Homo sapiens: one gene and its partners. The protein of the gene in region 2 interacts with the protein of the main gene of each other region in a pairwise test. Each region holds a gene or a part of one and is shown on either strand. Other genes may lie near its edges.

Region 1 (3,651 bases), on a different chromosome or scaffold from region 2:
GTTGCCACCTCAAGTTGTTGTTTCCATCTTATGCGGGAGAGATTCGGGGGAAATGGCACCCTGCCATTTTTTGTGTGTGGTCCTGAATCATCCTGTTGGTAAAACTCCTGAGGTCGTCTGAGCTGGAGTTCTGATTGCTTCTGTTTCTCTCATAGTTGCTTCCCCGTCTATTCTGTGAGCGTCTGTATGGGGAGAGGCAGTGGGGAGGGCGATCTCGTCCCCTTGAAGTCAATGACCACCTGCTTTTAAGGTTCTCGTATCTTTTGCTCTGAAAAAGGTGTGGGGGAGGAAAACTTTCATTTTCCAGCGAAAGTAGAAAGGGAGAGAGTGTCTAGAGGAATAAACGGCCAAGAAACAGGTAAGTTCTGAATGTGGTCCTAGTGTGGAATTTACCAGAAAGCTCACATGGAGATTACCACTGCCCTCAAAGGATTGCAGGTAAACTAGCAACTGTGGGAAGTGGAGGCTCCTCCTCTCCTTTTGTAATTCAAATGTTCCTAGTGTACTGCAATAGACACTAGTTTGAATGAATTCAAGATATCATCTCTTGGTAAAACCAAAAGTAAACTGATTACAAAAGGCACAAACCCTTCAACCATACTCCCACTGTCTGCCTTTCCTCTACTTTCTGTGTGGTTTAAGTACACCTGAAAAAACAAAACAAAACAATTACAGCTCAGTTTATGTAACTTGCATATTTAACAGGAGCATCTTTTTTGGTTGTTATGAATCTTCCATTTTTGTCATCATAGGAACTTAGTTTATGTAAACAACGATTTGTGGGTGTGTCTAGATGCATATGGTTTATGTGTTTGTAAAGTAAAATACATAAATAAGCTGATCACGTAAAAGTGATTGTGACTATAGTAGCTCTTTTGGTGCACCCTATCAAAGCTTTTAGAGTGGAGTCATTTTAGAAATCAAAAGCACAATCTCTGCTTTTCTGAAGGCCATTTCAGGGAGATGACATCGGGAGAAGACAGAGTGCTAGTGTAACCCTGAAAACCCTTTGTGTTTTAGGAAAATATCAATCTTTTGGTCTCAGGAGATTTCTGGTTCTGCAAAATGTATGCTTTATTTATAGATTACACTCAGCCACATTAATCAAGAAAACAACATCCAGTCTCCCCAAATCACGATATTTGTCTTTGGGGATGCTATATATTTGTGGTTCTCATGAACATGGTGGCCCTGCACGAAGACCACAGTGGGTTCCTGGTGGGTGTACGCTGAATGAGCCTCCTGATTGTGCCTTGCTTCAATGAATTGTCAGTTTTGCTCATATTCCCTGAGTATCCACCAGCTGGGGTGGAAGACAACCCGTTCCCAGACGCTATGGATAATCCACATGTGGGTGAGCAAGAGTTAAGTATATGTACCAATGGGCAGTGGGTGAGTGTACAATGAATGCAGGGCATTGTGCAGCTGAAACAGGAACAGGACGCCTGTACCTGACCAAGGAAATGTCAGCATATTAATATTATAATAAAAAGTATCTACCTTTCAGAGCACTGAGACCTGGCTCAATCATGTTTGTAAAGCATTTCACGTGCCCCAAGAAAAACAAAAAGTACAGAAGTACAAAATGGACAGGGTTTTTTCAGGTGTTGTTTCTCTTAGATCAATTTAATTCCTATTCTGAAAATGTGTATTTGAGCCTTGTAAGCTCAGGTAAACCATTTGTGTTTCAAAAACGAGGGTTCCAAGTTGGTGATGATAATAGCACTGTGACTTTTAAAAAGATGGCTTAGGCTGGGCACGGTGGCTCATGTCTGTAATCCCAGCACTTTGGGAGGCCAAGGCGGGTAGATCACAAGGTCAGGAGTTCGAGATCAGCCTGGCCAATAGGGTGAAACCCTGTCTCTACTAAAAGTACAAAAATTAGCCAGGCATAGTGGCGGGTGCCTGTAGTCCCAGCTACTCGGGAGGCTGAGGCAGGAGAATCGCTTGAACCCAGGAGGCAGAGGTTGCAGTGAGCTGATCGCGCCACTGCACTCCAGCCTGGGCAACAACAACAAAAAAAAAAAAAAAAAAAAAGAAAAAGAAAAGAAAAGATGGCTTAAATAATATTTCTTTTTGTGTGTTGTCATTTGATTAAAAAATAATAACATGGTTCTTGGTACACCAAGCCCTTGCCAAGATTAGGCCCATCTTCCCAGTAGCCTTCTCAAGACAAAGTTGCCTTTGTGTAACTACAACTGGGAGGCTTTGGTGACACAGAAAATTTAATGGGGCACTGCAACTTCTTATTAACAGAAAATGCAATGGCCTAATGTTTTTGTTGTTTTTGTTTTATGTACTACCAGTTAATACCTATGATCTATTTCTCCATGAGGATGATCTTACTATTTTAGACATGTCCAGGGAAGAATGAGGTGGTTATGGCTTTACCTTAGAATTTAGTTAGATTATAAAAGGCTGCAGCATGCTGGCATGGAGGAGAGCTCAGCACTGTGGGCTAGTTTGTTATCAGGGTAATCAGCAACGTTTGGTCATGTGGTGAGAAAAAAAGGGGTTTATCTAGAGTAAAGATGCAGATTTTAGGGAAAGGATGGCTATTCATACTAAATTCACACTCCATAGCAGAGTGGCTAGGAGCATGGGCTGCCTTGGTTCCAATCTTAGTTCTGCCACTTACATGTGACTTTAGGCAGGCTAACTAAAAAAGAAAACTCTGTGACTCAGTTTCCCCAACTGTAAAATGCCTACCTCACAGGGTTATTATAAGGATTAAATAAATTAATCTGGGCCAGGCTTGGTCACTCACACCGTAATCCCAGCACTTTTGGAGACCAAGGCATGCAGATCACTTGAGCCCAGGAGTTTGAGAACAATCTAGGCAACATGGCAAAACCCCATCTCTACAAAAAATACAAAAATTAGCCAGGCGTGGTGGTACACGCCTGTAATCCCAGCTACCAGGGAGGCTGAGGTGGGAGGATCCCTTGAGATCGGGAGGCGGAGGTAGCAGTGAGCCGAGATTGCGTCACTGCACTCCAGCCTTGACAGGGCAAGACTCCATCTAAAAAACAAACAAACAAACAAACAAACAAACAAGTTTATACCTCTTTGTCTGCTATTTAATATCCTTTAAAAGGCTGAGAGTTGCCAATAAGCAATGATGAGGAGGAAAAAAGTGCATTTTTTCGTAATTAGAAAAAACTTATTAGGTCATTACTAGAAGGAAAAAAGTATGTTTTCTCAAAATTAGGGAGAGTGAAGAGCTGAGCGTGGTGGTTCATGCCTGTGGTCCCAGCTACTTGGGAGGCTGAGGCAGGAGCGTCGCTGGATGACAGGCGCTCAAGGCTTTAGTACGTTATGATTGCGCCTGTGACTAGCCACTGCACTCCAGCCTGGGTAACATAGTGAGATCTCACCTCTAAAAAATACGGAGGGTCAACCAAGAAATCCAAGAGTGAAAGGGCAGTATCAGGTGAATATCAATGAATCACAGCAGTGTGGCTTTTCTGGTGGGCTGACAGTGTACTCTTAGTTACTAAGAAAAGAGATGAGGAAGGACAGGTGGCTGAAGAAGTATTAGAAGAATTGCCTCTAGTGAAATCCTATTTGCAGAGCAAAGAGAAATCCAATAACAAGTTAGCCCTTCCCATTTGGTGCAAACAGTAGTTTGGCCCAGGGACCTCCTTTGCT
Region 2 (3,651 bases):
GAGCTTTGGGTGAGGGGGAGATTCAGGAAGAGCCAGGGGTGACTGCAGCCTGTGACTCTTTTAATCAAAGGAGCAGCTCCAGCATGGTCTGGCAAGGAGCCCTGGCTGTGAGGGGTGAGGAGACCCAGGTTCCAGTCCAGGTTCTGCTAGAAGATTGATTCTGCGAAAGTTCCTTTGCTCTCTGAGCTTTCATCATCTACAAAAAGAACTTTGATCTTAGCCAGGCCCAGAGGTTCATGACGGTAATCTTAGCACTTTGGGAGGCCGAGGTGGGTGGATCACCTGAGCTCAGGAGTTCGAGACCAGCCAGGACAACATGGCAAAACCCTGTCTCTACTAAAAATACAAAAAATTAGCTGGGCATGGTGGCATGTGCCTGTAATCCCAGCTACTCAGGAGGCTGAGGCACGAGAATCTTGTGAACCTGGGAGGGGGAGGTTGCAGTGAGCTGAGACTGCACCACTGCACTCCAGCTTGGGCAACAGAGCAAGCGAGATTCGTGTCAAAAAAAAAAAAGAATTTTGATCTCTGCAGGTGCTCATAGGATGGGATGAGGCAGTTCTGTATACTGCAAAGTTCTGTACAAAATCAGGGGATAGGAGGCCCTTTGGGGTCCTAGGGAGATTGTTCTGGAGATGGATTCTTACAGGGGCCCCGAGCCCATCAGAGAATTATTCCTCTGCTAAAGTCTCACTGGAGGACTGGCTCAAGCCTCTGCCAACAGGGAGAGTGGGCAGGCTTCTCCCACATTCCAAAGACCACACCCCATGTGTCCCTCTTTAGGAACCCCTAGAAAACCCAAGGGTTCCTGTTCCCAGTGCCTTTTCCTGGCATTTCCTCTCCTCTCAGCAGGGAGTGGGGGAGTGTCCCATCCCCATCCTGCCCTCCAGGGCCAGAGCACTCAACTTTGGGGCTGGGGAGGGGGTCAGCTGGCATCAGATGCGGGACTGAACAGAGCTGAGATCAGAAGGGTAGAGAAGTCTGGGGCTTGGGATGTAGGAGAGACATCTGGGAGCGGGGGGCGGGGGTCCGGGGAAGGCTGGACAGGGCAGGGGGCAAGGCCAAAGCTGGGTCTGGCCTCTAGCCTGGGCATCTAAAGTGAGAAGAAGGACCTGTGGAGTCAGTCCTTGCCCCACCCAAGGAAATCTTAATCCAATAAACAAACAGCCAACACAGCCGCTCCTGTGCAAGAAGCCGTGGGAGCGATGGGGAGGCCACAGAGGTGGGGAGGCCAGGAGAGGGCAGGGAGGCTGTTTAAACAGGCCCCTCGGCCTGGGGCAGTTGGCAGAAATATTTGGAACAGGGTGGGGAGCACAGCTGTGGTTTGGAGCAGGAAGCTGGGGCCCGGGGTGGGTGGGCTGAGCTTGACTGCTTCCAGGAGAAAGAAAAGTGTCAATTCAGCCCCACTCTGGTCAACGCCTCTTCTGAGGGAGACTCCAAGTCCCAACACCCTTCCCTCAGTTCAAGGTCAATCAGGTCAACCAGACAGACAAGGGGCTCTATCCCTTATCTCCCAGAGTGATGACTCTGGACCCCCAGCCCTGCTCCCAGGCCTATGACCCTGGGCCTCATCACTGAAGAAAGTTTCAGAGTTCAGAGCCGAAACCCCGGAGTTCTCAACAGAGGAGTTAGAGGAGATGAGCCATCAGCTCTTTATTTTTTTTACTTTTTATTTTATTTTATTTATTTTTTTTTTTTTGAGAGAGGGTCTCACTCTGTCGTCCAGGCTGGAGTGCAGTGGCACGATGTTGGCTCACTGCAACCTGTACCTCCCAGGCTCAGGCAAATCTCCTGCTTCAGTCTCCCGAGTACCTGGGATTAAAGGTACCCATCACCAAGCCCGGCTAATTTTTTGTACTTTTTTAGCAGAGACGAGGTTTCACCATGTTGGCCAGGCTGATCTCTAACTCCTTGACCTCAAGCAATCCACCCACCTTGGCCTCCCAAAGTGCTGGGATTACAGGTGTGAGCCACTGCACTCGGCCCATCCACTCTCCCTAGGACGTGATATTCCCTTTCCTGCCGCCTTGCCTGGCAGTGGAGGAGCCCAGAAGTGATCGTGGCCCCCTGGGAGGCATTATCACCTTTTTTTTTTTTTTTTGAGATGGAGTTTCACATTTGTTGCCCAGGCTGGAGTGCAATGGCGCAATCTTGGCTTTCTGCAACCTCTGCCTCCCAGGTACAAACGATTCTCCCACCTCAATCTCCCAAGTAGCTGAGATTACAGGCATGCGCCACCGCGCCCAGCTAATTTTGTATTTTTAGTAGAGACGGGGGTTCACCATGTTGGCCAGGCTGGTTTCGAACTTCTGACCTCAGGTGATCCACCCGCCTCAGCCTCCCAAAGTGCTAGTATTACAGGCGTGAGCCACCGTGCCTGGCTGTCACCTTCTTTCAGGACTCTTGGCTCTCCTTTTGCCGAGACTCCTCAAGAGACTAAGGCAGAGAGTCAGAGGGATACATGTCCAGACTGACAGGCAGATATAGAGAGAGGTGAAGATACAGAAAGACCCACCCAGAGAGATAGCCACGCAGTCAGACACTGAGAGTGGGAGTGTGAGAGAGAGGGACAGAGAGAGAAGGGGTAGACAGAGGAGGCAGAGAAAAAGGAAGAAGAAAAGACATAGAAAGACTCACAGAAAAAAGAGCTAGACGGGTGGAGAGGAGAGACAGAGATAACAAAGGACAGGGTCAGGAGAGGGGAAAGGACACAGATGGGGAGCACACAGGAGGCGCAGGGCCAGACACACTCACAGGCCGAAGCAGAAAGAGGCTCACGAGAACTACACAAGGACAGACAGCCTCAGGACCCAGAGACACTCTCCTGGGAGACGTGGGGGGAGCCAAAGTGCTTGGGGGTCGAGCCCCACTGGGGGTGGCCTCACCAGGGCAATGCTGCTGCCTCCTGTCCCAAAAGCTTAACCAACCGCTGCCGGCATCTGGCCCCCAGCCACCCTCTAGTAAGCCAGCCCTTGGCCACTGGAGCCAGTGGGTCACCCAAGGTGAATGAAAAGTCACCAATAAGGGACAGTGAGAGTGTGACTGGGGTGAAGGTATGGGTGTCACAAGCCATGTGTGTCAGGGTGGGTCTGACCTGGGGTGGGGTTTAGGAGCGCACAACCCTATACACAGACCTCTGGGGGTTAGTGCAGGCGGGCATGCGTACCTGAGTGAGTTTGTGAGTGTCTGTACACGTGTGTGGATCCAGTTCCATTAAGAGCCTCACGATGCTAATGAGGCCAACGTGGCAGGCTGTTCCTCAAATAGCCCAATCAGAAACAATGAGTGAGCAGAGACAGCCACAATAAAGGTTTCATGCCTCTTCTGAACAGACGGTGTGTCCAGGTGCCACAGGGCACTTGACTACAGTCAACACCAGCGTACCATTCATTCCCGCTGGGGATGACCCCCGCCGCCTGGCCAGCTGACCCCACAGTCTCCCCTGTCCCAAGCCCAAACTCCAAACTCATGGGAGAACCCACATGATAGACACATGGGCCCTCCCGGGTGGCAGGCGCAGCTCCCTCTGAGAAGGGCAGCCAGAGGGATGGTGGGGTCCAACCCTGGCTTTCCCCCAGGCTAGCTTCCATCCCTCCTGCTGCTGCGGCCCCATTTAGCTCTCTCCTTGCTCCTGGGGTCCAGTGACCCACA
Region 3 (3,651 bases), on a different chromosome or scaffold from region 2:
TTTGCTGTTGGATAGAATTTAAATTGTCTACATAAATATTTGTTTTAGGACCCTTAGATTTTATCTGAATACACAGATTAGGCTTTAAAAACAGATATATATGTCATTTTTGGCTTAAGGAGTTTGGCTAAGTTAGCTTTTCAACTGGCACTGTATGGCAGCATTTTTTGGTATGGTTAGCATGGCACATGGCGAAACATAAAGCATTTTACTGTACAGGTAAGGAATGTGCCATGTTGTTTTACCTATCTCTCTTTCTCTCTCACTCCCATGCACACATCCTGTGTGTATTCAGAGACCTTCAGAAACATTCATATTCATTTTCATGAGTCAGCAAAAGCCCTACGCTTGATTCCAACAGAATATTTCCTTTACATACTTTCTTCTCTTAATTTTTACAAAATTTGTATGGTAGGTGTAAAAGAAAATCATAGTAACTGTACCATATTATTAACCCCTAAATCAAACTTTTTTTGTCTTGTGTATCTTGATTTTTCTGTGTGCTTTATAGTGAAGCAGCCGACACGAGTCGTTGTTCATAAAACAGCTTTTGAAAGTTGAGAGCACACCCCTGGAGAACCGACTGTGCTTGCTTACGTTTGGTTCATGACTTAAAAATCGAGTACAGGTGATGAAATCTTGGCAGTGTTAACAAAAAAGTAGTGTGTATTGTGCTATTTTTTTTTACTCTAGAAACTTAACCATTTGTAGAGAAAAAGGAAACAAATTTTCACACATTGAAGTTCATTCTGACATAAAATTAATGATAAATAATCATAGAAATCAAGCTTTGTATTTTAGCGAACATAAGTACTTTCAACAAACTCAGGTGGTGTATCAGGGAGACATTTTCTGGGTGTTTTTGTGTGTTTTCTGTCTTAGAAAAGAATGTGTTCTAATGCAAGGATGTTTCTCTGCAGGAGTTATTCCTGATGAAGCTAAAGCTTTGTCTCTGTTGGCACCAGCTAATGCAGTGGCAGGTCTTCTGCCTGGTGGTGGACTCCTGCCTACTCCTAACCCACTTACCCAGGTACTAGTTCTATTGAATTCTTAAAGGGTGGGGAAAAAAACAGAATTGTGCATAAAGCTAAACATATTTGAACTTTGTAAGTACTCATAAGATTCTAGTTCAGATAGCATTATCACATGTCTATATCAAAATCACAAATAGTATAGAAGATCTCTTAGACTTTTGTATTTTAAGAACATTCTGAAAAATCATAAAATATCTGTTCTGTCACTTTTACCATTGGCTCTCAAAATAACCCATGAGTAGTTTTGGAACAGTCTCCTGAGGCATGAACACTTCTCTGAACACACTGTTAAAAATATATTCATTTGGACCAGGAAAGAAAACTGAAGTTAAAATTTCACAAGTGAGCCCTTCATTTTTTTTTCCTTCCCCTTTATCTTTTCCTGTTATTTGGGGGGTTTTGAATTACATAGGTGGCTTGAAAACAAAGGCAATTCTTGATGGAGATGTTTGATATGGGAATGTGAAAGAAAATTGGTTGCAATAGTGTTTCTAACACTGACAGTGCTGTACGAAGCTTATTTTAGAACTAAAAGGCACTTTAAATACTGTGTATTCTAATTACTGAGATTGTAACTGGTCAGTAGTTTCAAAGATTGTAGTGAATGAGCCTCAACTGGAAATTTATAAAAGCATTCTTTCTAGTGTATCATTTTGCCTGTCTAAATAATTGACTAATTGACTCTTAACTGTGAAGTGCACTATAGAATGAAAGATTAGGAGTTCCTAAGCTTTTTAGGTGTGACTTTTATCACTTAACTCCTAGGTTATTTCTTTTAACCTATAAAATGAGGATCTGAGTAATTTTCTTTATTCTTTGTTCTGTTTTGTTTTGTTTTTTTTTGTTTGTTTTTTGTTTTGTTTGTTTTTGTTTTTTTGAGATGGACAGAGTCTCGCCCTGTCACCCAGGCCGGAGTGCAATAGCACAGTCTCGGCTCACCGCAGTCTCCACCTCCCTGGTTCAAGCGATTCTGCCCCAGCCTCCCGAATAGCTAGGACTACAGGCATGCCACCATGCCTGACTAATTTTTGTATTTTTAGTAGGGATGGGGTTTCACCATGTTGGCCAGGCTGGTCTTGAACTCTTGGCCTCAAGTGATCTGCCCACCTTGGCCTCCCAAAGTGCTGGGATTACAGGCGTGAGCCACCGCGCCCAGTCCAGATCTGGGTAATTTTCTAAATTCCTTTAATGTATAAAGCTATGCAATAGCTATGTTGGACAGTAAGTTAAAATAGTATTAACACAGCATTTTGCCTGTTACGAATAAACAGTTAAATTATAGAAAGTTTGATAGTTTGTGTTTACTAAATAAATTGAAACAAGGAGAACTTGTAGCACAGGTGGAGAAAGTGAGGCTGTTTCAAAAGCTACAGATGGTTTTAAAGTAGCCTCACTTTCATGGTTTGTGTCTATTACATTATGGATTAATCAGAATTGGTGTCAAGCAGGTGGCAGAACCCTGCAGTGATTTGAACAGGGAACATTTAAGGAATTACTAACTAGTTATAGGAGATTACTAGGGGAACTCTAATGAATACAGGAATCACAAGTATAAGAAACAACCACTACCTCTGAGGCTGAAGCAGAAGGAACACCCATTTAGTTCAGGGGACTCCTCTTTCCCCATCTATGCTGAAACTTAGATTTGTTTTTGGAAGGGTGACTAGTAAATAAGTTCTCTTGGGTGCCCTGGGGAGCTGCATAAGGAGTTGGTATTAAAACTTACTGAGAGGCGAGGGCTACTGGGTGTTTGACATGGTGCTGCAGGAATAATCAGAAAGGGGACACAGCAACCAGGAAGAGCCCCTTTCTTAGTCAGTGTCCTTCCAGCACTCTTTCCAAATGAAGTCTTATATCATGGCAACTGTCAAAGGAGAAATGCTTTGTAAAGGTCCTGCCTCCGGTAGCACAAAACAGCAGGGCAAAGAATAGTAGATTTGGATCCTGAGAAGCAATAAATAATTAAAATCAGCACAAGAATATGTTGAAATATTTTGTCTTTTTTTCTTAATCTAGGATTTAGGGGGGAAATGTGTTGTAATGGGTGGAACATGGGTGTCATATAGAGCAAGACTCCTATTTCTGTTAATAGATTGTTATTGGACCACAGCCATTTGTTTAGGTATCGTCTCTGGCTGCTTTCAAGCTATGATGGCAGTAGTTATATGGTTTGTGTACAACTGAGGAGTTGTACGGAGACCATGTAGCCTGAAAACTCAAGTTGTTATCTGACCCTTTACATTAAAAAAGTATTAACCCCTGGTATAAGGAACTGAAATGAAGTTTTAAATAAATAAAATTTGCCATTTCACAGATTGGCGCTGTTCCACTGGCTGCTTTGGGGGCTCCTACTCTTGATCCTGCCCTTGCTGCACTTGGGCTTCCTGGAGCAAACTTGAACTCTCAGGTATACCTTAGTAACTTCAAATTTTTCACCCATTTTTACAGAAGATCTGTTTCATTAACTGTTGGTTTGCATTTCAAGAGCAGAAGCTAATGGCTATGTTGTAGTAATTTTTTTTCTTGTTTAAACTTGTCAGAGCTTTAAACAGTCACTGAATGACTAACTCCTTTATCCATTAATGGATTTCTTTTATATAGTTCAAAATAGAAAATA

What was found.
Region 1: the proteins of ZNF385C (region 2) and RBM47 interact in a two-hybrid assay, tested with the Homo sapiens proteins (one large-scale study listed by BioGRID).
Region 3: the proteins of ZNF385C (region 2) and SRSF11 interact in a two-hybrid assay, tested with the Homo sapiens proteins (one large-scale study listed by BioGRID).

What each region holds. Positions count from the first base shown.
Region 1 is NC_000004.12:40,623,247-40,626,897, reverse strand, and holds part of RBM47 (RNA-binding protein 47), read left to right. Parts: intron 1-3,651. UniProt on the Homo sapiens protein: Single-stranded RNA-binding protein that functions in a variety of RNA processes, including alternative splicing, RNA stabilization, and RNA editing. Functions as an enzyme-substrate adapter for the cytidine deaminase APOBEC1.
Region 2 is NC_000017.11:42,091,900-42,095,550, forward strand, and holds part of ZNF385C (zinc finger protein 385C), read right to left. Parts: intron 1-3,651.
Region 3 is NC_000001.11:70,231,348-70,234,998, forward strand, and holds part of SRSF11 (serine/arginine-rich splicing factor 11), read left to right. Parts: exon of another isoform or gene 1-763; coding exon of another isoform or gene 764-920; coding exon 921-1,030; intron 1,031-3,348; coding exon 3,349-3,441; intron 3,442-3,651. UniProt on the Homo sapiens protein: May function in pre-mRNA splicing.